Linked DNA regions of Homo sapiens: all the other regions are linked to region 2. The links come from fine-mapping of genetic effects on gene expression. A gene starts in region 2. Each other region holds a variant in brackets. All regions are shown on one strand. Distances are between the middles of the regions. Region 1 has its middle 26 kb from the start of CALCA. Region 2 holds the start of RRAS2 (RAS related 2). Region 3 overlaps COPB1 (coat protein complex I subunit beta 1).

Region 1 (4,143 bases), 640 kb after region 2:
TTCCATTCACAATTGCTACTAAGAGAATAAAATAACTAGGAATACAACTTACAAGGGATGTGAAGGACCTCTTCAAGGAGAACTACAAACCACTGCTCAAGGAAATAAGAGAGGTCACAAACAAATGGAAAAACATTTCATGCTCTTGGATAGGAAGAATCAGTATCGTGAAAATGGCCATACTGCCCAAAGTAATTTATTGATTCAATGGTATCCCCATCAAGCTCCCATTGACTTTCTTCACAGAATTGGAAAAAACTACTTTAAACTTCATATGGAACCAGAAAACAGCCCGCATAGCCAAGACTATCCTAAGCAAAAAGAACAAAGCTGGAGGCATTGCGCTACCTGACTTCAAACTATATTACAAGGCTACAGTAACCAAAATAGCATGGTACTGGTACCAACACAGATATACAGACCAATGGAACAGAACAGAGGCCTCAGAAGTAACACCACACATCTACAACCATCTGATCTTTGACAAACCTCATACAAACAAGCAATAGGGAAAGGATTCTCTGTTTAATAAATGGTGTTGGAAAAACTGGCTAGCCATATGCAGAAAATTGAAACTGGACTGTTCCTTACACCTTATACAAAAATTAACTGAAGTTGGATTAAAGACTTAAACGAAAGACCTAAAACCATAAAAATCCTAGAAGAAAACCTAGGCAATACCATTCAGCACATAAGCATGAGCAAAGACTTCATGTCCAAAACACCAAAAGCAATGGGAACAAAAGCCAAAATTGACAAATGGGATCTAATTAAACGAAAGAGCTTCTGTGCAGCAAAAGAAACTATCATCGGAGTGAACATGCAACCTACAGAATGGGAGAAAATTTTTGCACTCTATCTATCTGACAAAGGGCTAATATCCAGAATCTACAAAGAACTTAAAACAAATTTACAAGAAAAAACAACCCCATCAAAAAGTGGGCAAAGGATATTAACATACACTTCTCAAAAGAAGACATTTATGCAGCCAAGAAACATATGCAAAAAGACTCATCATCACTGGTCATTAGAGAAATGCAAATCAAAACCACAATGAAATACCATCTCATGCCAGTTAGAATGGTGATCATTAAAAAGTCAGGAAACAACAGATGCTGGAGAGGATGTGGAGAAATAGGAACACTTTTACACTGTTGGTGGGAAGGTAAATTAGTTCAACCATTGTGGAAGACAGTGTGGCAATTCCTCAAGGATCTAGAACTAGAAATACCATTTGACCCAGCAATCCCATTATTGGGTATATACCCAAAGGATTATGAATCATTCTACTATAAAGACACATGCACATGTATGTTTATCATGGCACTATTCACAATAGCAAATACTTGGATCCAACCCAAATGTCCATCAATGATAGACTGGATAAAGAAAATGTGGCACATATACACTATGGAATACTATGCAGCCATAAAAAGGATGAGTTCATGTCCTTTGCAGGGACATGGATGAAGCTGGAAACTATCATTCTCAGCAAACCAAAACAAGAATACAAAACCAAACACCGCATGTTCTCACTCATAAGTGGGAGTTGAACAATGAGAACACATGGACACAGGGACGGGAACATCACACACCAGGGCCTATTGAGGGGTGAAGGGCTAGGGGAGGGATAGCATTAGGAGAAATACCTAATGTATTTGACAGGTTGATGGGTGCAGCAAACCACCATAGCATGTGTATACCTATGTAACAAAACTGCACGTTCTGCACATGTACCCCAGAACTTAAAATGTAATAAAAAAAAGAAAGATTCCAAGCATACATTTACCTATACAAAATCAGACAAAAAACACTGATACATAGGTGGTAGGCAAGTAGATAAATAAGAATAGTTTTATAATTAAGTTTCATGCTATACATGCCTTTTAAATGTACTTCATTAATTATATTTGAATTCAATAGAATAAAATAAGCTTAAGGAACTGCTGAATTGTAAGTAAATATTTAATAACAGGATCATACAATTTATCATGAATTAAAGCTGTACTTTGCATTTTTTAGTGCATATGTCTTCTTTAGACAGTAAGAATATTTTCCCTGCTATAAAAATACTTTCTCATACCTTCTCATTTTTCTTAGTCATAAAATTATTTTATTTTGTCAGAGCATATAGTACTTTTTACAGTAGGAAAACAGGAATGAATTAACACAAAATTTGAATGAAACTTAAAACAAAGCCTTGCATAAAA[T/C]GTATCACATTATTTCAGGAGTATGATTCTGGGAATCAGATATTATATGTTACCTTGCAATTTTTTCCAAGTTACAATTTATATACTATCAGATACACCCATTTTAAGAGCACTCACAGTTTGATTAATTTTGACAAATGTGTATACACATGTAATCACCACCATATTTAAGATGTAGAATATTTTTATCACCCCAAAAGTTTCCCTTCTTCCCCTTCCCAGCCAATCACCCTTTTCCTCACCCATACTTCCACTGATCTGCTGTGATTGTAGATTAGATTAGTTTTCTAGAGTTTCCAATAATCGTAACCATACATTATATACTCTTTTATCTGCATTCTTTTTGGAACCTATCCATGTTGTGTATATCAGTAGTTTGTTTCTTTTTACTTCTGAGTAATAGTTCATTGTATGAATGTACCACATTGTGTTTATTCACTTGATGGACATTTTGGCTGTTTGTAGTTTTTGTCTTTCATAAAAAAAAATCTGTGAACAATCTTGTACATATTGTTTTGTGGAAATATGTTTTTATTTTTCTTGGGTAAATACCTAGAAGTGTCATTGCTGTATTACATGATAAGCATATGTTTAATTTTATAAGCTGCCAAACCATTTACCAAAATGATTGTAACAATTTACATTCCCGTCAATTATTTATGACAATTCCACTTGTTCCACATTCTCCTCAACACTTAGCATTGTCAGCTTTTAAAATTTTTAGCCATTCTACTAGTGGTGTATTTGTATCTCACTGTGGTTTTGATTTGCATTTTCCTGATGACTAATAATCTTAGCATCTTTTGATGTGTGTATTGACCATTTGTGTATCTTCTTTTGTGGAATGTTTGTCAAAACCTTCCGCCTGTCTTTTAACTGAGTGGATGTCTTCTAACATTGAGTCATAAGAGTTCTTATAAATTGTGAGACTTATACATATCTGATATATATTTAGATATCAGTTTTTGTCAGATGTATGTATTATGAATATTTTCTCCCAGCCTGTGGCATTTCTTTAAAAAGCAGGAGGTTTTAGTTTTATGCAGTCCAATGTTTCATGCTTTTTGTTTCCTATGTAAAGAAATCCTTACCAACTCCAGGGTCACAAAGATTTTCTCCTGCGCTTTCTTCTCTAAGTTTTATAGTTTTAGCTTTTATGCTTAGGTCTATGGTCCTTTTCAAGTTAATGTTTTGGTATGGTGTGGGATCAAGATTTCTTTTTTTTTTTAATCTTACATGAATATTCAGTTGTTGCAGTACCATTTGTTAAAAAGATTATCCTCTTCTCATTGAATTGGCTTGGAACTTTTGTCAAAATCAGTTGACCACATGCATATATTTCTATTTCTGAACTCTTCTGTTGCATTGATCTGTATATTTATCCTTATTCCATTACCACACTGTCTTAATTACTGTAGTTTACATTAAGTCTTGAAAACAAGTAGTGTGAGTTCTCCTGATTTATTCTTTTTCAAAATGGTTTTGGCTATTGTAGGTCCTTTACATTTTGATTTATTACTATTTCTCACAGGTTTTTTTTTTGTAGATTTCTCCAAATTTGGTACTTACATTGTATCACCATCTGTGAATGAAAGCAGTTTTATATCTTTCTCTCCAATATGTATAACTTGTGTTTATTTTTCTTATCTTATTGCATTGACTTTGACATCCAGTACAATGTTAAATAAACATGATGGTTGTAAACATTTTTGCTTTGTTTACAATCTTTGGGGGAAAGCATTCATTTATTCACAAGTAAATGTGATGTCAACTTCAGGGTATTTATAGATTGTTTTGATCAAATTCCTTCTATTCTATAAAAACTGAGACTTTTTACCATAAATTTGACTATGTCAAATGTATTTTCTACACCTATTAAGATGTTCTATTTTTATTTTTTTAATGTTATTTTGTTGAATTGCATTGATTGATT
Region 2 (4,143 bases):
TCTTTTAAATAACACTACCAATATTGTAACCCAAGATTATTCTCCCACTCCTAGACTTCTCCTCCACTTATCCCCTCACCCCCACCCTCCCTCAGCCATCAGACTAGTCCCCAAAGGGTTAGCTATAAATTGTTTTGCTTTGCCATTAGATACGTACAATCTCTCTGCGCCCTAGGGAAATAGCAACCTGACAGCATCCCTGATTCTGTAGCCTGCTAAACTTAAACCAATCTCACCCCTTACTCAGTGATTTTTTTAACCCACTAATAAGCATACTGTAAATGCTCATTACATAAAACATCCTTTCTTCCTGGATTCAAAGGTTTTAGCAGCAGTAATCCAGGGAATATTATAGCAGCAATTATTGCTCATTTACTCAATGTGAAAGGTGACAATCACATTTGTTACAGTACTCAATATTTTAATGTCACTATAAACACTAAGTGAAATAAGCTATTCAGGTATCCCAATTAATGACAAATGGGTGAAAAGGAAACCAGACAAAAATATTTCACCGTTCATACTCTAGATACTGTGAAAAATATCCTTGTTTCCTGTTATAACAGGGTACCTTCGTTCTCTCCCAGCATATGCCACACCTTTTAGGTTGACAAAAGCAGAAAGACATCGGGGCTTTGTGTTTTAAAAATCCCAAAAAAGACTACTCAAACCTCTCCCCAAGAGCAAATTCTAAGAAGGAAGAATACCACCTCCCTTTTCTTTACCACAAACCCCTGACTTACCGTCTCTAGCAACCAGAGAGGGCTGGGGGTAGGGGAGAGGGTGGTTAGAAAACAGAACGCACGACTCGGTCATATCCTAGCCCGGCCCATCCCAAACTTCACCTAGGCACGGCGAGAAGCAGGACGGCATCAGGAATTCCTAGGAAATGGTCTCACCCCATCAGAGAACATTTTTAACTTCCTAGAAGCCACCATTTCCCCGGGGCATTATCACACACTCCCACCCGGACATATTACCTAAGAGAGTACTTATAAAAAGAGCGTAACACACACACAAAGAAATACACAGTACTTGAAGCGGGCAGCTCCGGCTCAGGCGGCGCGGGGAAGCCCGGAGACCACGCGGAGCCGCGGCCAAGTTGCCACCGCTATCGCCCCGACGGTGAAGGCGCGGCCGCAGGCGGCTGGAAAAGCAGCGCGCGGGGCTCCAGCTCCAGCCCCACGCCCGGACCCTCGGAGCAGTAAAGCCCGGCTCGGTGGCCCAGCCTCTCCCGGAGGTCTCTGGCCTCGGCCAGAGCAATAAGGTGGATCGGTGCTTCCCACCCTTCCAGCTCCGCCCTCCCGACCACATTCCTGAGAAGCCCTACTCCCGCGACGCCGCGCCCGGGAGGAGGCAGGAGCGCGACGCTGCGGCCGCAGGGCAGGAGCGTAGTCGGCCCCGCGCCCTCCCGCCCCCTGGCCCCGGCCCGGGCCCGCGAGGCGCCTCTGGGGCGAGGTCGCGGCGGCCGCCCCGCCACAGGTAGCGCCAGCCCCCGCCCGCCGCCGCTCCGGCGCCCCGGGCAGGCCCGCTCCAGGTACCTGGATGAACTGGATGGTGAGCGCCGACTTGCCCACGCCGCCCCCGCCGACCACCACGAGCCGGTACTTCTCCTGGCCGGAGCCGTCCCGCCAGCCGGCCGCGGCCATGGGGACGCTACAGAGCCCAGCCTGACTGCGCCGAGCCGCCGCTGCCGCCCGCCCTAGGCCCGGCTCCGGGGACGTGTGCGGCCGGCGGGCTGCGGGCGAGCGGCCGGGCTGGGGTCCCGGGTACCGGGAGGCGTCTGGAGGGCCGGTCAGCGCGGTAGCGCGGCGCTGGGGACTGGCTGGGTACCGCCCGAGGCGCGGAGAAGCGGGGTGACGGCACGGGCCAGGGGCGGCAGCGGCCGGGGGGCGCGCTCCTCTACGCGTCTCCGCAGCGCCTGCCGAACGCAGCCTCCAGCGCCGCCACAAATGGCCGTCTGGGGGCCGGGCTGCCAGGCTGAGGTGCTGCATATGCATGAGGGGGCGGGGAGGGGCGGGGCCGCGCCGCTTGGGGCTGAGGTTCGGGAGGTAACCCGGGCTTCAGACCCCCACGGACACACCGCTCTAATCCCTAGCCAGTGAGCGAGTGCGTGAGAGTGTGGGAGTGGGTGTCAGTTGGGAGTGGGACGAAGGCAGAAAGAGTGTGTCACCCTAATTGTCTATGTAAGGGATTGTGTGGATGAAAAATACAATATGTGACGGCGTGTGCGAAAAATAGGGCTGTTGGCATATTAACTCAATTTTATAGGAGAGTACATACCCTGCTTTAAGAGTACAGATGGTGACCATATTTGTGTGAAAAACAGTATGTGACAGTGATTGAGGATTAGAGCTGTGTCACAGTAATTGAGTGTGTGATGGGCTGGTGGTTGTGACAGTGTGAAGAATGGGACAGTGGCTGAGCATGGAGAATAAGTCAGTGATTGAGCTTGCATGGGCAAGACGGAATGTGACAGATTTTGTATGTGTCAGTACAGTGTCATAGTGGCTATGTTTATGTGTGACAAATGTGCAGTAATTGGATATGAGGAGTGTGAGTGCGAGGGGTTGAACTCCTGGCCTCAAGCAATCCTCCCGCCTCGGCCTCCCAAAGTGCTGGAATTACAGGTGTGAGTCACTGCACCCGGCCTCATGGGGTTTTTAATAAGAATTAAATGAGCACATAAAACAGTGCTGCTACACAGGAAGCATTTACAGCAATCTTGGAACATGACTGCAAGTTCTTGGACTTCACTTGGTAACTCATTTGGAACCAGTAGAATGCAGCAGAAGAGATGCTGCCTAATTTCCCAGGCTAGATCAGAAGAGGCCATGCAGCTGTTCTCTTGGTATTCTCACTCCGGGAGGAACAAAGTCAGAAGTTTGACTATCATAAGACTGCCATGCTAAAGAGGCTACATGTAGGCATGCCAGTCGAAGTCTGATTGATGGCCAGGAGCAACATGCCATTTAAAAAAAAAAAAAAAAAGTCCCACTGAGCTCCCACCAGATCACCAGCATCACCTGCCAGCCATCTAAGTGAGACATCTTGGACACTCAGCCTAATCGAGCCTTCCAATGACGGCATCCCCTGTTAGCATCTGAATGCAACTGCGTGAGAGACCCCAAGCAAAAATACCCATCCAGGCCAGCCCATCCTGAATTCCTTTTTTAAAAATCTTTTTTTTTTCTTTTTTGAGACAAGATCCCTCTGTCACCCAGGCTGAAGTGTAGTGGCACAATCATGGCCCACTGCAACCTCCAACTTCTGGACTCAAGTGATCCTTCCACCTCAGCCTCCCTAGCAGCTGGGACTACAGGCACATGCCATCAAGATCAGGTAATTTTTTTTTTTTTAAGAGACAAGGTCTCTCTATGTTACCCAGGCTAGTCTCGAACTCCCAAAGTGCTGGGATGGCTGGGCGCAATGGCTCATGCCTGTAATCCCAGCACTTTGGAAGGCCAAGGCGGGCGGATCGCTTGAGCCCAGGAGTTCCAGACCAACCTGGCCAACATGGCTAAACGCATCTCTACTAAAAATACAAAAATTAGTCCGGAGTGGTGGCGTGCACTTGTACTCTCCGCTACTCCGGAGGCTGAGGTGGGAGGATCACTTGAGCCTGGGACGCGGAAGTGACAGTGAGCCAAGTTCACGCCACTGCACCCACGCCTGGGCGACAATGCGGGCTCAAAAAAAAAAAAAAAAAGTGCTGGGATTACAGGCATGAACCATCACTCCCGGCCCTTCTTGAATATTTGACCCACAAAATCATGAGCAAAATAAAATTGTAGTGGCTCACGCCTGTAATCCCAACACTTCGGGAGGCCGAGGGAGGCGGATTGCTCGCTTGAGCCCAGGAGTTCCAGACCAGCCTGGCCAACATGCCAAAACCCGTCTCTACAAAAAATTACAAAAATTAGCTGGGCGTGGTACACGCCTATAGTCCCAGCCACTCCGGAGGCTGAGGTGGGAGAATTGCTTGAACGCTGGAAGCGGAAGTTACAGTGAGCCAAGATCGTGAGATCACGAGATCACACCACTGCACTCCCGCCTGGGCGACAGAGCCGTCTCAAAAAAAAAAAATGTACTGGGATTACAGGCATGAGCCATCACTCCCGACCCTTATTGAATACTTGACCC
Region 3 (4,143 bases), 99 kb after region 2:
CCTTAAGTTTAGACTTAGCTAAAAAATCAGACTACCTCAATCACCCCCAATGAAAGTAAAGGCCAAAAGGAAAGCACAATCAGACGCTGGGAAACTTAGCTTGGAAATGCATTTGGAATTATACTGCAGTGTGATGGTACCCAGTCCTAGTGTGAAGTGAGGAAAAGGAGACGAGTGAGTAAGGCACAGAGGCAACAGAGAAAAAGGCAGCTTTTTGAATCCTCTCTAGTTGAATCCTCCCAGTACCAGCTTCAGTAATTGGTTAGAACCAGTTTTATTCCTAACAAACATAGAACACCCTAAACTAAATGTGAGTAAGGCACGGAGGCAACAGAGAAAAAGGCAGCTTTTTGAATCCTCTCTAGTTGAATCCTCCCAGTACCAGCTTCAGTAATTGGTTAGAACCAGTTTTATTCCTAACAAACATAGAACACCCCAAACTAAATGTGAATGATTAAAAAATCTATTTTGGATTATCTACTCTTCATTATGATTCAGGATAATTAAGAACAGTATATCTATTTCAGTTCGGGTACATAATACTTCTTTAAACTGCAGAGCGATCTGTTTTCTCAAGTTATTTTGGGCCGGGTGCGGTGGCTCACGCCTGTAATCCCAACACTCCGGGAGGCTGAGGCGGGCGGATCACGAGGTCAGGAGATCGAGACCATCCTGGCCAACATGGTGAAAGCCCGTCTCTACTAAAAATACAAAAAATTAGCCAGGCGTGGTGGCGGGCACCTGTAGTCCCAGCTACTTGGGAGGCTGAGGCAGGAGAATGGTGTAAACCCGGGAGGTGGAGCTTGCAGTGAGCCAAGATCACGCCACTGCACTCCAGCCTGGGTGACAGAGCCAGACTCCATCTCAAAAAAAAAAAAAAAAGTTATTTTGATACTTTCTCCCTGGAGCTAAATTCAAGAGCAAATCCCTTCAAAACATGATAATGCATTTTTAGAGATAGCAATGTTGGAATATTAAATAAGTAAAAAACAACCAAGTGAATCAAGGCCTACCTTATTTTATATCATTGAATTTGTAAATTCTCTTAATAAAGCTGCATATATTCACAACTCAGTAATTTAAATTTATAATAGAAATTTATAACCCAACTAAAAGAAATCCATTGCCATATAACTAAAATTATGTAATCATTTATTTATAAAATAACAAAAATTTATGAATAGATCTGTTTATTGTACTGTGAAAAGGGTCTTGGTACATGAAACATTATATACTTTGAGGACAGCATTCAGAACTGTTAAGACAAAAGACAAACTATAATTTTAAACTCAATCTTGATTTAAGGGAAAGGCTATAAATTATTGGCTGAAAAGTATTCAGCATGAACTCAGATTCTATATAAGCATGAAAGAGTACAAAAGATGTTGGAGTCCAGTAAGCCCATACCTAAATTAACTGTAAAGCTTCAAGGACTTTTTGTTTATTTTTATATACTAGTTTTCTTCTGTGACAAGTTGATTTTATCTCCAAGACTTAAGGCCATTCCCTGTAAAGAAAAATTAAGATATTTATAATTATTTAAACTATGTACAATCAGTAGGTTATTCCATATTATTAAGCCCCAATTCAATTCAATGACACCATTATCAACAATAAAATCAAGGACATACCAAACAGACTTACCAAACTTTACTGGTAATTACCTTTCAGTGCTAGATTTTTCAAGCCGTCACCAG[A/ATT]TTTTTTTTTTTTTTTTTTTTTTTGAGACGAAGTCTCATTCTGTCACCCAGGTTGGAGTGAAATGGCACAATCTCAGCTCACTGCAACCTCCACCTCCCGGGTTCAAGCAATTCTCCTGCCTCAGCCTCCCGAGTAGCTGGGATTACCGGGTGTGCGCTACAACACCCAGCTAATTAGTCACTAGATTTACACCTTGGCTTTCAAAAAATTCTAGAGAACCCATTTCACAAACACCCCATAGGAATCAATCTGGTTTTAGGCAAATATCCCAGAATGAGGGGCCCAAAAGGTGAGAAATTTTAATGAGAAAAGTTATACTTCTATTCAGAGTATATTATTATTGTATGTGTATATGCATCTAATGCTAAAAAGATACTACATATAGAAATAATAAAGTCATAAATTCCTCCCCCCTTTGTCAGTCCAGAGATACTCTCAAAAAAAAAGGAACTGTTACCTGGCTCTTTGCACGAATTCTTATATGGCCGGTAACAGCAGCATCTGGTCCCTGGTGAATTGGCTTCTCAATGCTGACATTTGCAAGTGCATCTTCACCAAATATGGAACGAGCATAAAGGTTGGCTGCCATAAAGCCACAGTAACCAGAAAGGGCCTGGAAAAAATTTGTGATAAATTCATTACTTTACCAGATACCTACATAGAGGCAAAAACCAAACAGCATAGGTGACTTTTTTTTTTTTTTTTTTGAGACAGAGTCTCACTCTGTTGTCCAGCTTGGAGCTGGAGTGCAGTGGCGTGATCTCGGCTCACTGCAACCTTCCTCCCAGGTTCAGGCGATTCTCCTGCCTCAGCCTCCCAAGTAGCTGGGATTACAGGCATTCGCCACCACACCTGGCTAATTTTTGTAATTTTAGTAGAGACAGGGTTTCACCATGTTGGCCAGGCTGGTCTTGAACTCCTGACCTCAAGTGATCCACCCGCCTCGGCCTCCCAAAATGCTGGGACTGCAGGTGTGAGCCACCACGCCCAGCCCCATTGGTTATTTATCACTTAAAACAGTACTTACATACAGGGTGGTGGTTACATAATCTTATGAGTTTGTCAAAACTCAACTATACATGTAAAAAGTGTGAATTTTACTGTGTATTATACCTCAATAAATCTGATGTTAAATAAATAGTTCTTAATCCGATTTGTATTTATATATTCTGTTTACTTAACTTGCTTGACTGCCTCCCATATCAGACCTTAAGCGCCATGAAGGAAGAGACTACTTTTGTTGGACTCAGTATATGCTGAATAAACTAATATATAAATTAAAACCTACTTGTTTGGTAGCAGACATTATTTTATTTATAAAATGAATATTATAACATTATAGAAATTTTACATAAAGAAAAAAGTTCCTTAGAGCTCCAGCTTCATTTTTCTTTCTCTCTCGTTTTTTTCATACATACACAAACATAGCAAAAAGTCACAGTATAACAACGATTCTGTATTTGAGCACATATATTTTAACCAACAATCAGAGCCCACGGAAGAGCTCATGGACATTTTCTAATCCAGTATTACAAATAAACGATTTTATTTATCTTTTTGAGACAGAGTTTCACTCTGTCACCCACGCTGGAATGCAGTGGTGTGATCTCGGCTCACTGCAACCTCCACCCCCTGGGGTTCAGGTGATTCTCCTGCCTCAACCTCCCAAGTAGCTGGGATTACAGGCACGTGCCACCACACCTGGGTAATTTTTGTATTTTTAGTAGAGATGGGGTTTCGCCATATTGGCCAGGCTGGTCTCAAACTCCTGACCTCAAGTGATCTGCCCGCCTCAGCCTCTCAAAGTGCTAGGATCACAGGAATGAACCACCATGTGCAGCATAAACTACTTTAGAATGTGCCTCTAGCTGAATGGGGGAGAAGATTGAAAAGAAAATAAAAAAAAAATTAATCTGACTATTCAGTTGGGTCACTGCACTAGGAAAAAGTAGGATGGTATAGTCCAATAGAAAGAGGTAAGCAGATTCCAACATTCTATGGGATAACATCTTTTAGATAGCCTAGAATGGTACTGCATATTGAATAACAAAAATGTGCTAGAGGAAATACAGGAAGGCCAGGAACCTACTCTACCATTCCATCAGATTTCTGAATTTCCTAGTCAAATTTTACCTTTTCTGGAGTCAGGCATTTCATATTGGTTGACTTTAATATGTGCTGTAAGTAGTCATTTAAATCAACCATGTTGGTGTTAACTGTCACCTGTAGAGAGGAAAAAAAAGTCAAGGAGATCATAAATCTTACTATGAGAAAGCTGTGAATCACCAGTATGTCATATTAAAAACTTGTTCCAACTGTTTAGGTTGGAAAGAGTAGACACCAAGAAACTAAATAACATCTATAAAATCCAACAAGCTGTAGGTTGGTATCAGTACTTCCCAATAGAGATAACTTCACAGAGATTCAATATGAAGCATATAGAAT

What was found. PIP is the estimated chance that this variant, and not a neighbour inherited with it, causes the effect. A credible set is the group of variants that fine-mapping cannot tell apart.
Region 1: its variant is the best candidate, but not a certain one, in a credible set for the expression of RRAS2 in lung (GTEx, PIP 0.87).
Region 3: its variant is the best candidate, but not a certain one, in a credible set for the expression of RRAS2 in whole blood (INTERVAL, PIP 0.59).

What each region holds. Positions count from the first base shown.
Region 1 is chr11:14,996,552-15,000,694 of GRCh38, forward strand. No RefSeq gene overlaps it. Among named protein-coding and RNA genes, the nearest start is that of CALCA, 26 kb to the left of the region's middle. The variant T/C (reference allele first, on the strand shown) is at 2,211.
Region 2 is chr11:14,357,222-14,361,364 of GRCh38, forward strand. RRAS2 (RAS related 2) reads right to left here and starts at 1,962. Exons shown (of 6, transcript NM_012250.6): 1 at 1,542-1,962. The coding sequence starts at 1,649. RefSeq lists an enhancer at 792-891 and silencers at 1,132-1,251, 1,292-1,491, 1,562-2,061.
Region 3 is chr11:14,456,377-14,460,519 of GRCh38, forward strand. COPB1 (coat protein complex I subunit beta 1) reads right to left here. Exons shown (of 22, transcript NM_001144061.2): 20 at 3,832-3,921; 21 at 2,156-2,311; 22 at 1,136-1,507. The coding sequence ends at 1,448. Among named protein-coding and RNA genes, the nearest start is that of COPB1, 41 kb to the right of the region's middle. The variant A/ATT (reference allele first, on the strand shown) is at 1,698.